3 linked regions of the Homo sapiens genome follow. The protein of the gene in region 1 purifies or fractionates together with the protein of each later gene. This does not show direct contact. Each region holds a gene or a part of one and is shown in the gene's direction. Other genes may lie near its edges. The genes, in order: SPICE1, PLBD1 and CEP295.

Region 1 (3,749 bases):
ATCAATGCAGTAGGAAGCAAGGTCATTGTGTGAGAATGAGGATAGGAGACAAGGCATTGGGTATGAATGAAGGTATAAAACTAATATGTAGGAAAATCAATGAACAGGGACCTGTAATGAGATGTTCAAGCATCTTTAAGGTCCTACTTAACATCAGTAATCATGAATTTAAAGTCAGCATGATTGGGTGTTTTTTTTCAGATTCAGCTGCATGGGTGCAAGCACTTAGTAAGTGTAAAGTAGGGATGGCTAATATGGTCATTTTGCCAAGTGATTACAGCAATTTAGAGAGGGGCAGGGAGTTGAGGATGCAAGCAAGTGGATGATTGTTGATTATTAAATATATCTACATCAAACTTCCTCAATCAGAGTGAAAACTATTAAAGGCAGTACCTTTCCTCTAGAAGGTTTTGGGCATGTATTTGCAGACCACACATGGGTGTATTGTAACAGCAGAAAGCAAGGGGCTAGAGGAAATTGTCTTACCAGAGCAAATAAACTCTGTTTTTGAATCAAGTGCTTTGTAAAGTTCTTAACGTGGTCCACGCAGCTCTGACTGTCGTGGATCCAGCCTATCAGGGCGCCTCCCCTTCACAGCAAGTTCCCACTGTTCTCTAAACTTCAGACACACTGGACCTCTTCCTGTCCCTTGCATTTTCCACATCTTTGCACATGCAGCTCCCTCTGCAGGAATGCTTTCCCCTTCCCCACTGGCCTATTCATGTCTGAGCTTTCCTGAGTAATTCAAATATTACTATAATAATAAGCTAAGTATTTGGTTAGAGTGCTTCCTTCTTAGCACTCGTCATAATTTTAATGTTTTTGTCATTGATAACTGTCTGTTAATATGCTGTAAGTTTCCCACCTTGCCTGTTTTTAGCCCCATAGAACCTAGCTCTCCCGCACATTTGTAGGTTGTAATAAACAACTTTTTTTTTTTTTTTTGAGACAAGGTCTTGCTTTGTCGTCCAGGCTGGAGTGAAGTGGTATGACTGTGGCTCACTACAGCTTTGCCCTCCTTGGCTCAAGCGATCCTCGCACCTCAGCTTCCTGAGTAGCTGGAACTACAGGCGTGTTCCCACGCCCAGCTAATTTTTTAATTTTTCGTAGAGACGGGGTTTCGCCATCTTGCCCATGCTTGTCTCAAACTCCTGAGCTTAAGCAATCCTTCTGCTTCTGTCTCCAAAAGTGCTGGGATTCCACTACTAAAGATTTGTAAACAAATGAATAGAGATGAAAGCAAATTAAGTGATATGTGAAGTCTGGTGAGGAGAGCAACATCTTTCTTTTGGAGAATTCTCGAGGCACCGGCTAATGCTATATGCCTATTCTTTTTTTTTTTTTTTTTTTTTTGAGACGGAGTCTCGCTCTTTCGCCCAGGCCGGACTGCAGTGGCGCCATGTCGGCTCACTGCAACCTCCACCTCCCAGGTTCACGCCATTCTCCTGCCTCAGCCTCCCGAGTAGCTGGGACTACAGGCGCCCGCCACCTGGCCCGGGTAATTTTTTGTATTTTTAGTAGAGACGGGGTTTCACCGTGTTAGCCAGGATGGTCTCGATCTCCTGACCTCGTGATCCGCCTGCCTCGGCCTCCCAAAGTGCTGGGATTACAGGCGTCAGCCACCGCGCCCGGCCTGCTATATACCTATTCTTTAATAATTTGCCCTGAACCTTGCAGAGGAACCTCTCTCCCTTAGACTCAGGACCCGAGATAGGCTTTGGGAGGCGCCTGCGCACTGGGCTCGCCGGATATACGCAAGGGCGTGGGGCGGAGCTCTGGTAACCCAGGCAACAGCCCGGAAGCCGCTGGCTGGGTTAACCTGTGGCGCGCTCCGCGGTTCCGGCGCCTGAAGTTTTAGCTGCGGTGGCGGCGGCAGTCGGGACCGACTGCAAGGCAGGTTGAGATGATGGATCTGAGGCTTGCAGCTCGCAGTCCCAACGAGCCTTAGGGACCAGGGCTACCAAAAGGGTGGGGAGAACGGTGGTGGCATCTGTCTGTTGCCTGGGATCCAGGCGCCCGGTTGGGGAATCCTTACTTCAGGAAGCGCAGCCGCGGCTCTGTGTTTTGAGAGTGCAAGTACGTGTCAGGGTGCGTGTCTGGGTATGTTTGTGCGTGGCGCCAGAGCACCTCGAGTATGCGCGTGCGCACCGCTTTCGGGAGCTTTTGCACAGAGCTGGTAATTGGGGGTGCTCGATTGTAGCGTTGGGGGAGTTCACCGTGTAGCAGGAGAGAGGCAAACTATCCAGGGTGCTTTGGGACCGGGAGCGTCATTTAAATCGATGGATGTCAGAGGGGCTTCTCAGAAGGCTCCTCCTGTGAGTTTTGAGGAGTCCGTGGAAGTTAACCCAGTAGAGAAGAGAGTGAGCCTAATGAGTGTTCCAAGCAGAGGGAAAAGAATGGTTGCAACTGTGTGTGAGGCGAGAGCTTGGTTTTAGGATTTGCGGGAGATGTGAGAGAACACTGGAAAGAAAAGTCAGCCGGGCCATATGGGGGAGAGGGTCTGAATGCCAAGCTGAGTTGGATTGCTTTTGACAGTGGGGAGCCATCCGAATCTAGAGGAAGTAGGTAAAGGGTTCAGATCTATTCTCTATCCATGTATTTAGGTAGGATTGATTCAACAGTGTTTGGAAAGAGTTCTTGTTTCTCTTTGATCAGTTTTCCACACCAGTCAGAGTGGATTTACTAAGTCCAGTCATAACTATCCCTTTTAAAATTCTTCAGTGGTTTCCTATGGTCTTAGGTGTTCAGATTGCTGTGGCTCACAAGACTACAATCTGCTGTCTGCCTTTCTTCCTTTAACCTCTCACCCTCTCAGATCTTTGTTAATTGAACTGAACTTCTCAAACTCTTCGTAAATGCATTTTCCCTTGCCTGGAATATTCTTTCCCCTGCTTCTAACTTTTATTCGTATTTTAGCTCTCAGTGCAAACATTTTTGGGGGTATTACAGAGAGGAGAAGCTTTTACTTACTGCATAGAGTTAGTTAGGTACTTTCATGGCACACAGAATTTACTTCCCATGCTGCCCTTTTGTTGTAAATACTTGTTTAATTGCGGTCCTCTTAGAAACTCTTAACTCTGCAAGGGCATAGACTATTCTACTTTCTTGTTATATCTGGTGCCTCGCTTTTAGATGGTGCTTCAAAATATTAGTTACATTAATAGATGGATGATGAAGTCAGTGAGTGAAGAGTGAAAGGGAGACTAATTAGAATAATGAGAGCCTGAACAAAAATATTTTTAGTAGAGATGGAGAAGAGCGGGCAAGAGAGATTTTTAGGGAAAAAGTTAATAGATTCTGTTATCTGATTCACTAAGAGATAAGGAACAGAGGTGATGCTGAGGTTTTAAATTGGAGCAACTAGGATTGTAATTCTGTAAATTCAGCTTAATTGAACATATTTATCGAGTCAACCAGTTATATATCAGCAAGTAGAGATTTGGGGTATGATGATGAGCTGTATTTTGATATACTGTATTTGTGATATTTGGGAGATGTATATAGTAGGTAGTTAGAAATGAGCATTTGGTGTTTTTGTTTTGTTTTTGTTTGTTTATTTTAAGAGACAGAGCCTCACTTTGTCACCTAGGCTGGAGTGCAGGGGCGCCATCGTAGCTCACTGCAGCCTCCAATTCCTGGGCTCAAGCAGTCCTCCCACCTCAGCCTCCTGAGTAGCTGAAACTATAGGCACTCACTGCCACTCCTGGCTAATTAAAAAAAATTTTTTTTTTAGAGACAGGGTCTTGCTA
Region 2 (3,749 bases), on another chromosome or scaffold:
TGCATCTTACTTCATCAGAACACTTGGCTCCTTGGATCAGAAGGGTTAGTAAGGTGAAGGAGGGTGGTATAGGGCAATATGACTCAAATATTTGGGGTGGCACCACTTCCTTGAACATCCTAATGTGGTTCTCTTCCCATCATAACACAACCAAAATTTTCATTTTTGGTTCATTTTAATTTTCTAACTTGAAGGAAAATGTGCAACTTTTACAATGTCCTCGATGTCTTCATTTTAATTTTTCTTCATTTAAATTTTCTAACGAAGGAAAATGTGCAACTTTTACAATGTCCTCGATGTCTTCGTTTTAATTTTTCTTCATTTTAATTTTCTAACTTGAAGGAAAATGTGCAACTTTTACAATGTCCTCGATGTCTTCATTCATTAAATGCCATTAAACATAATTGTGACTTTAATTTTAATTAAATAAAAATGAGTTGGAGTCTCCCTGTGTGGCACAGGCTTGTCTTGAACTTTTGGGCTCCGGTGATCCTCCCACCTTGGCCTCCCAAAGTGTTGGGATTACAGGCATGAGCCATGGTGCCTGGACCACAAAATTGTGACTTGTGTTTCACAATTTGCACAGAGATTTGATGAACTTTTAGGTTCTTTATCTTTTCTAACAATTACATTTTCCCCGTTATGAAAGGTACTGCTTATTCTCTCTTCTCATCTCTCCTTGACACCTAGGTTAAGCTTAGAAGAAAGGCCAAGAGGAAGAGTGGGGTGCTGAGGTTCCCATCTGAGAGGTGGCTTGTTCCCTCCTTCCCCCTCTCCCACTGCACCTTAAACATAGCTCTAACACAGTAGAATGGCAAGTTCTGTGTACTTGTTTATCTATATGGCTTAGTTCTTTTTTAAAAAAATTATTATTGTTATTATTATTATTTTTTTTTGAGACGAATCTCGCTCTGTCGCCCAGGCTGGAGTAGAGTGGCGCGATCTCGGCTCACTGCAAGCTCCGCCTCCCGGGTTTACGCCATTCTCCTGCGTCAGCCTCCCAAGTAGCTGGACTACAGGCGCCCGCCACCGTGTCCGACTAATTTTTTGTATTTTTAGTAGAGACGGGGTTTCACCGTGTTAGCCAGGATGGCCTCGATATCCTGACCTCGTGATCTGCCCGCCTCGGCCTCCCAAAGTGCTGGGATTACAGGCGTGAGCCACGGCGCCCGGCTGGCTTAGTTCTTTTTGTCTGTGGTGAGGCATGCTCTTAGCTGTCTTTATATCACTGGTATCTGGAGTATAAGATGGGCCCAGCCAATGCTGAGTGAATGAATGAAATGCCTTTTGCCTACTTCACAATGTCACCTAGGGCACCCGGTGCCAACTTCACAATATCACCCAAGGCATAACTTTTGACTACTTCACAATGTCACTTTTAACTGACCCCACACAGAAATGGGGACTCCACAGAAACGTAGGAGTGTGTCTAGTGTCAGCCCCGTCTGAATCACTCTCCTGTGGTGGCTCCAGCCAACGAAGAGGAAGCAAAAAGGATAAAAAATCTGAGCTACAGCGCATGGATTTAGGTTAAACAGCCTGGGAATGAGGGGTACGCTAATCGCTGAGGAAAACGCACCTGTGGAGGCCTCTCCAGAAACAGCAGAGGATCCGAGCTGCGTGTAGGCAGGGCGCGCATGTCACCCTGGCCCGGGCGCCTGGTCCGCTGCTGGAGATAAATGGTCGACCCCGGAGGGAGAGGCTAGTAGGGGTGTTGATGTGAACTGATTCGCCCAAGCCTTGGGCCGCAAAACTGCGAAAGAAAGCGGCAGGCAGCCTCTGCATTTCCCAGAAGTGCAGCTGGGGAACTTTCCCAGACCGGCCCAGGGGTTGCTAGAGGGTCAGACGTAAAGGATCCGCCTTTCCTAGGCGGGGTGGGCCCCAGGCCACCACGTGAAGCGTCCTCGCCCCTCAGAGCCCGGAGCAGGCCGGGCTCAAGAAAGAGGAAAGTTGAGGACGCCCCACCTCGGAGAGGCGGCGCCCCTGAGTAGGCCAGGAGCCTCTCTTGCAACTTCTGCCACCGCGGGCCACCGCGGCCGCCTGATCCCGCAGAGGAAGGTCGCGGCCGTGGAGCGATGACCCGCGGCGGTCCGGGCGGGCGCCCGGGGCTGCCACAGCCGCCACCGCTTCTGCTGCTGCTGCTGCTGCTGCCGCTGTTGTTAGTCACCGCGGAGCCGCCGAAACCTGCAGGTGAGCAGAGCGCGCCCTGGGCGGGGGGCGCCCGGGGAGGCTCCTAGGAGCCTGTTAGCGCCCGTGCCCCGCGTCCGGCCGAGTTGACGTCCAGCGGGCGTCTGGTTCCTGGGTGAACTCAGAGAAACGCGCCTCCGGCCGGCGGTCTCGCTCCAGCCCTGCGGCTGCGCAGCGAGGGCACTTGAGAAGGGCATGGCGAGTGCGTCTGCCAACTTTACAAGTTTTGGCCCGAATTCTTGGCCAACAAATCGGTTCGCTCCTGCGCCGATTCTTGGCCCACAGAGCCTGGGCTGGTCTTAAAAACTCCAGCCAATGGGCATCTAAATATATTTATCCAGATTGTAGGGAGGTATGGTTCCGGCTTGCCATTTGTTTTGTGTTTTAAAAATTTACATTGACTTTGGCTTAAAATCACGATTGCACGATTGTCAGTTTGATACGTGCCTGGCAGTGGGCTTAAGGGCCTTTTGGTTTTGTTGTTGTTGTTGAGACAGAGTCGCTCTCTGTGGGCGACGCTGGAGTGCAATGGTGTGATCTCGGCTCACTGCAACTTCCGCCTCCCGGGTTCAAGCGATTCTCCTCCCTCAGCTTCCCAAGTAGCTGGGATTACAGGCGTCAGCCACCATGCCCAGCTAATTTGTGCATTATTAGTAGAGACGAGGTTTCACCATGTTGGACAGGCTGGTCTCGAACGCCTGACTCGGGCGATCCGCCTGCCTCGGCCTCCCAAAGTGCTGGGATTACAGGCATGAGCCACCGCGCCCGGCAGTTTTTTTTTTTTTTTTTTAATATATAATCCTAAATAGGATTATATTCCCCATTCTGCAGATGAGAAAAGTGAGATTGATCAGAAGTAATTCGCATAAAGATAACACAGCAAATAAGACAGAGTTAGGGGATGCCAGAGGGCATTTTCTTAACTACTTCCCTCTTGGAAAAACAGGTTTTATCTCTACAGGTATTCATGCAAATCTACATCCTTTGCCAAAATTAAATTAAATTAAATTAAAAAGCCTTGGATTTATGATTTCCGTTCCTAAGGAGGTGAAGATTATGAACTGTAACTAAGGGACTTGAAAGAATTCTAAAGTAATAATAAGAGAATTAATTTTGTCTTATTTCATAATCCCCTTTTCTGTGCTGACCTTGTACAAGAGTAGGGTGGGGCTTGGGGGAGGATGCCCCTTCCTAAATATGTGTACTGATTCTTATTACACTACCTTCCATCATCAAGAGCCTTCGTTTTTGAGACTTGCTTAGTTATCACTCTTCAATCTTAAATCTTTCCAGTCTGTGGGATCAGATGTACCCACAGGCTCCTGACTCGTGATTTTCTGTGTTCTTTGCCTAAACTATGGAGGTGGCCTTGGTGTCTACTTCTAGTCTAGGGAGACAGCTCATTCAGAGGTACCTGGGGGAGGCTGGGGAGGGTCCCAAAAGTGGAGGTAGCTTTTGTGTTTGGAATGCTGGCTAAAATCTTTATTCCTTTTCTGTTTTTTTGGACGAGTGAGATTAAGTGTTTTTGTAGGTGGAGGGGGCAGCCTGAGGAGTGAGACAGG
Region 3 (3,749 bases), on another chromosome or scaffold:
ATAATATGCACATGTTTTATCGGGTATGGAAGAGTATCTCCGTGCCTGTATGGAGGATGCTGAAAAAATGTTTAAAATGAATACAAATATTCTTCAAGATAAATGTGACAGGAAATGGGGAGAGAGGCTGAGAAGAACCCTAATATTTGGGAAGGAAACGTGAATTCTAGTCCTGGTTCACCCTTGACTGAAATGTGCCCTTGGCCAAGTTGCTGAATCTCTCTGTAACTCAGTATCCTGATCTGTAAATCTGAGGTGGAATCACACTATTTCTTCCTGTACCTTCCTTCCTCCTACTCCATCCCTTTAAGTTTTGGTGTTCCTCGGAGTTTGGTTCTTTGCTCATTGCTCTTCTCACTCTGCAAATTCTCCCTAAGTGATCTCATCCATTCCGCTAGCGTTTGTTATTACTCATGTAACAAGGAAATCCCTTTATGCTTAGCCTAGTTCTTTCTGTGGGCTATCTACCGATGTATTCATCTGCTTACAGTACATCACTGGATGTTCTACAGGCACATGAAGTTCAATATACACAGAGCTTGGCTCATCACCCTACCCACTTAACTGCCATTTCTGATTTCTCCCTTTACAATCAAGAATCAACACTGCTACCCAAGCTAGTGGCCTATGAAATCAACTTCACTTTCCCTTTTCTCTCAATCTCACATGCAATTGTTTGTCAAGTACTGCTAATTTTGTGTCCTAAGTTTCTGAAATGCATCCCTTTGTCTAGATATCTCATAAACAGCTCAAATTCAAAATATTCAAAGCTTAACTTATTACTTCTCCCTCCTGGTTCTCTTCATGTGTGTTCCAGGAGGATGTTATCACTATCTACCCAGGTGCTAGGTATCTGGGACTTGGGCATCACCCTTGTTTTCTCCTCTTGTGCCTCCCATAACCAGGTAACCACCAATTCCTGATGTTTGGCTTCCTATTCAATCTACTCACCTCTCTCCATTCTCATTGCTATTATCTTTCACTTTCTGTAGTAGTATACGGCCTTCTGTCTTCACTCTCTCTGACCTTTTCCCCACTGTGCAGCCAGATCTGATCGTGTCAGCAACTTCCCATCCCCACCCCCCATTTTTAATCCTTTGATTCCTGATGTTTAACCCCCATGACCCAGACTGCAAAATCTAGTATAGGCATCATAATCCATCCAGAGTAACATAATGTACTCGGCACATAACAGATACTCAATAGGTATTAACCTGTGCTCACCGCCTGATTATTGGTTATTTACAGCAGATAAATCCGTGAGGTGCTCTCCGTGCGCTGTACCTCTGGAGGCACAGGGTAACATACGGCTCATTGTTGTTATGAGCTGGAGGCCTTAAATGAAAGCTATAAGACGTTAACTGCGCATAATAGTACCAATGAATTCCGTAGTCAGTACAGAAAAGGATGCATATCCCAAGATATCTTCATGATGGGGCCTTAAAACAAAAGTCACCCTCATGGCTCTGCACTTTTTTTTTTTTTTTTTAGACAGGCTTTGGCTCTGTCGCCCAGGCTGGAGTGCAGTACTGGCGGGATCTCGGCTCACTGCAACCTCCACCTCCTGGGTTCAAGCGATTCTCCTGCCTCAGCCTCCCGAGTAGCTGGGATTACAGGCGCCCACCACCACGCACGGCTAATTTTTGCTGTTGTCGTATTTTTTGTAAAGATGAGGTTTCACCATGTTTTTAAAAGGACTTGGTCTTGAACTCATAACCAAAAATACATAACCTCGAACTCTTGGGCTCAAGTGATCCTCCCGCCTTGGCCTCCCAAAGTGCTGGGATTACAGGCGCGAGCCACCGAGCGCGGCCCATACGGGAAAACGTCAAAGCCTGACAGGTGTGACAAATAATGGGCCCCTAGGCAGGCTGGGGCTGGCGCGTGCCTGTGCGCGTGCGCGGGGCGCGGGGTTTTTAACACCGCGCAGCCTTCCCGGCGGCCCCCGAGGAAGGCGGGACAGGGCCTATTCCCGCGGTTTGGTCCGGCCATTGGCGGGCGGTTTGAATGACGGAAGTGACGGCGGCTCGGCGATGGCTCTCCCGCAGGCGCAGAAACGGCTGCTGGGCAGCTGATGGGCAGGAGCTTACCAGGCTGGCTTGCTCTGAGCTGCGGTTACTGTGTCCAGGCCCCGGGTTCTCAGGTGAGTCAGGGATGCACTGGCTTCCCAGTCGCCCCGTAGGAGCATGACTCCCCGAGGCCCAAGAGCTGGGATTGTATTCCGGAGGAATGGGATCCCAGGAAGGCGCCTTGTTGCGAACGCAGGTACGGCTCGCGTTTCTCAGGCTCCGCAGGCCGTGGGCCCTGCCCGCGGTCGGGCTGGCGGCTGTAAGGAGTGTCCGGACCAGACCCGGTAACTCAGTGCGAGAGGCTTTGCGCGCTCTCCTGGGGTCGGGTCGCGCGAGCTTCCCACGCAGCCTCCCCTGTCGCGGAGCTTCCGTGTCGGGGGAGGGGCGCTTCCCCCAGATCACCCGCGGACATGGCCTGCCACCTGGTAGCTGTTAAAAGAGCCTTGCCTGGATCGTTTCATGCAAAGAGCACGCTCTCTTTTGGTGTCTGCCACCTTAATCTCACAGTTATTCAATCCTGTCACAAACTCAACTTTTAAAACAATGGTGAACTTTTGAGTCCTTAATACTTAGAGTGTATTTGAAGACTTCACGCTAAGTCACATAGACGTCAGAACAAACCTTTTGGGGTAGATATTATTATTCCCTTTATACAGTTTAAGAAAACGAAACCAAAGTGACTTCAGTGACTTGGCCAGTATCTTCCTGCTAATAAGTGGCAGTGTTGGGTCTTGAACCCAGATCTTCCAAGTTTAGTGTTAATTTTGTGATTACTATGTACCAGGAGCCATTTAATCCTCAGGACGAAATCTTGCAAGATAAGTAGTATAATCTTCAATATTGGATAGTAATAAAATGTAGAATTTAAAAATCCATATTACTAAGAATAAATAATTAATAAACAAGTAAATGGGGCAGCAGGGAAAACTTCCTTACAGCAGGATTCCGATTGATAATTGTAGAAGGAATAATGGAAATAGAAAATACTATTTGGTAAACACCACAGTAGTTGTTTCAGACAACAGTCATCAATGGATACTAACGTCAATGGGCAAAAGTATGATGAAAAGCATATTTCTGTAGCCTCTACTCTGTCTTCATGAGATATTTATAAAGGAAAAGTAGTAACTACAGAGGAGAAACCTGGTGGACATCATCTTAACCAAGTGACCAAAATTCAGCATCATTTACCTCTTGATAACAATGCACTGAAAAGGTGCCTAATCAATTCTGTGGTGTTCTTGCCAAAAATACATAACCTCAGTTTAATCACATAAGATTAGACAAATCTAAATGGAGGGACATTCAACAAAGTACTTGGCCAGTATTTTCAAAAATGACAGGGTCTTGAAAAGACAGACTGAGAAACTGTCCCAGATTAAGGGGGACATGACAACTTTGACATGAGAATGTAACTCACATATCTTAATCTCCTGCATTCTGAAATCTCCATTTGCACTGAGGCCATGCTTCCCATGGGCTGCTCCTAGCCACTGACAGTGGCAGGCCTGTTCCTGAGAATCTCCCCACGGGTTCTTGCTGAACATTTCTTATACTGCATGGCTGTCTAAGAGGGGTCTACCCATTGTTACTTCCCTCCATTCAGTGTTAGACTTACACTGAAGTCTGAGGCGCTTGTAACTTTTATCAGCTCCCTCCCATTTTCCCTCACACACGCAT

The links.
Region 2: the proteins of SPICE1 (region 1) and PLBD1 purify together in Homo sapiens (affinity purification with mass spectrometry; 2 studies listed by BioGRID and IntAct, with this or other methods). This does not show direct contact.
Region 3: the proteins of SPICE1 (region 1) and CEP295 purify together in Homo sapiens (affinity purification with mass spectrometry; 2 studies listed by BioGRID and IntAct, with this or other methods). This does not show direct contact.

The regions. Positions count from the first base shown.
Region 1 is NC_000003.12:113,513,224-113,516,972, reverse strand, and holds the start of SPICE1 (spindle and centriole-associated protein 1), read left to right. Parts: upstream 1-1,816; 5' UTR 1,817-2,076; exon of another isoform or gene 2,077-2,315; intron 2,316-3,749.
Region 2 is NC_000012.12:14,566,023-14,569,771, reverse strand, and holds the start of PLBD1 (phospholipase B-like 1 precursor), read left to right. Parts: upstream 1-1,888; 5' UTR 1,889-2,075; coding exon 2,076-2,190; intron 2,191-3,749. UniProt on the Homo sapiens protein: In view of the small size of the putative binding pocket, it has been proposed that it may act as an amidase or a peptidase.
Region 3 is NC_000011.10:93,659,632-93,663,380, forward strand, and holds the start of CEP295 (centrosomal protein of 295 kDa), read left to right. Parts: upstream 1-2,050; 5' UTR 2,051-2,143; intron 2,144-3,749. UniProt on the Homo sapiens protein: Centriole-enriched microtubule-binding protein involved in centriole biogenesis.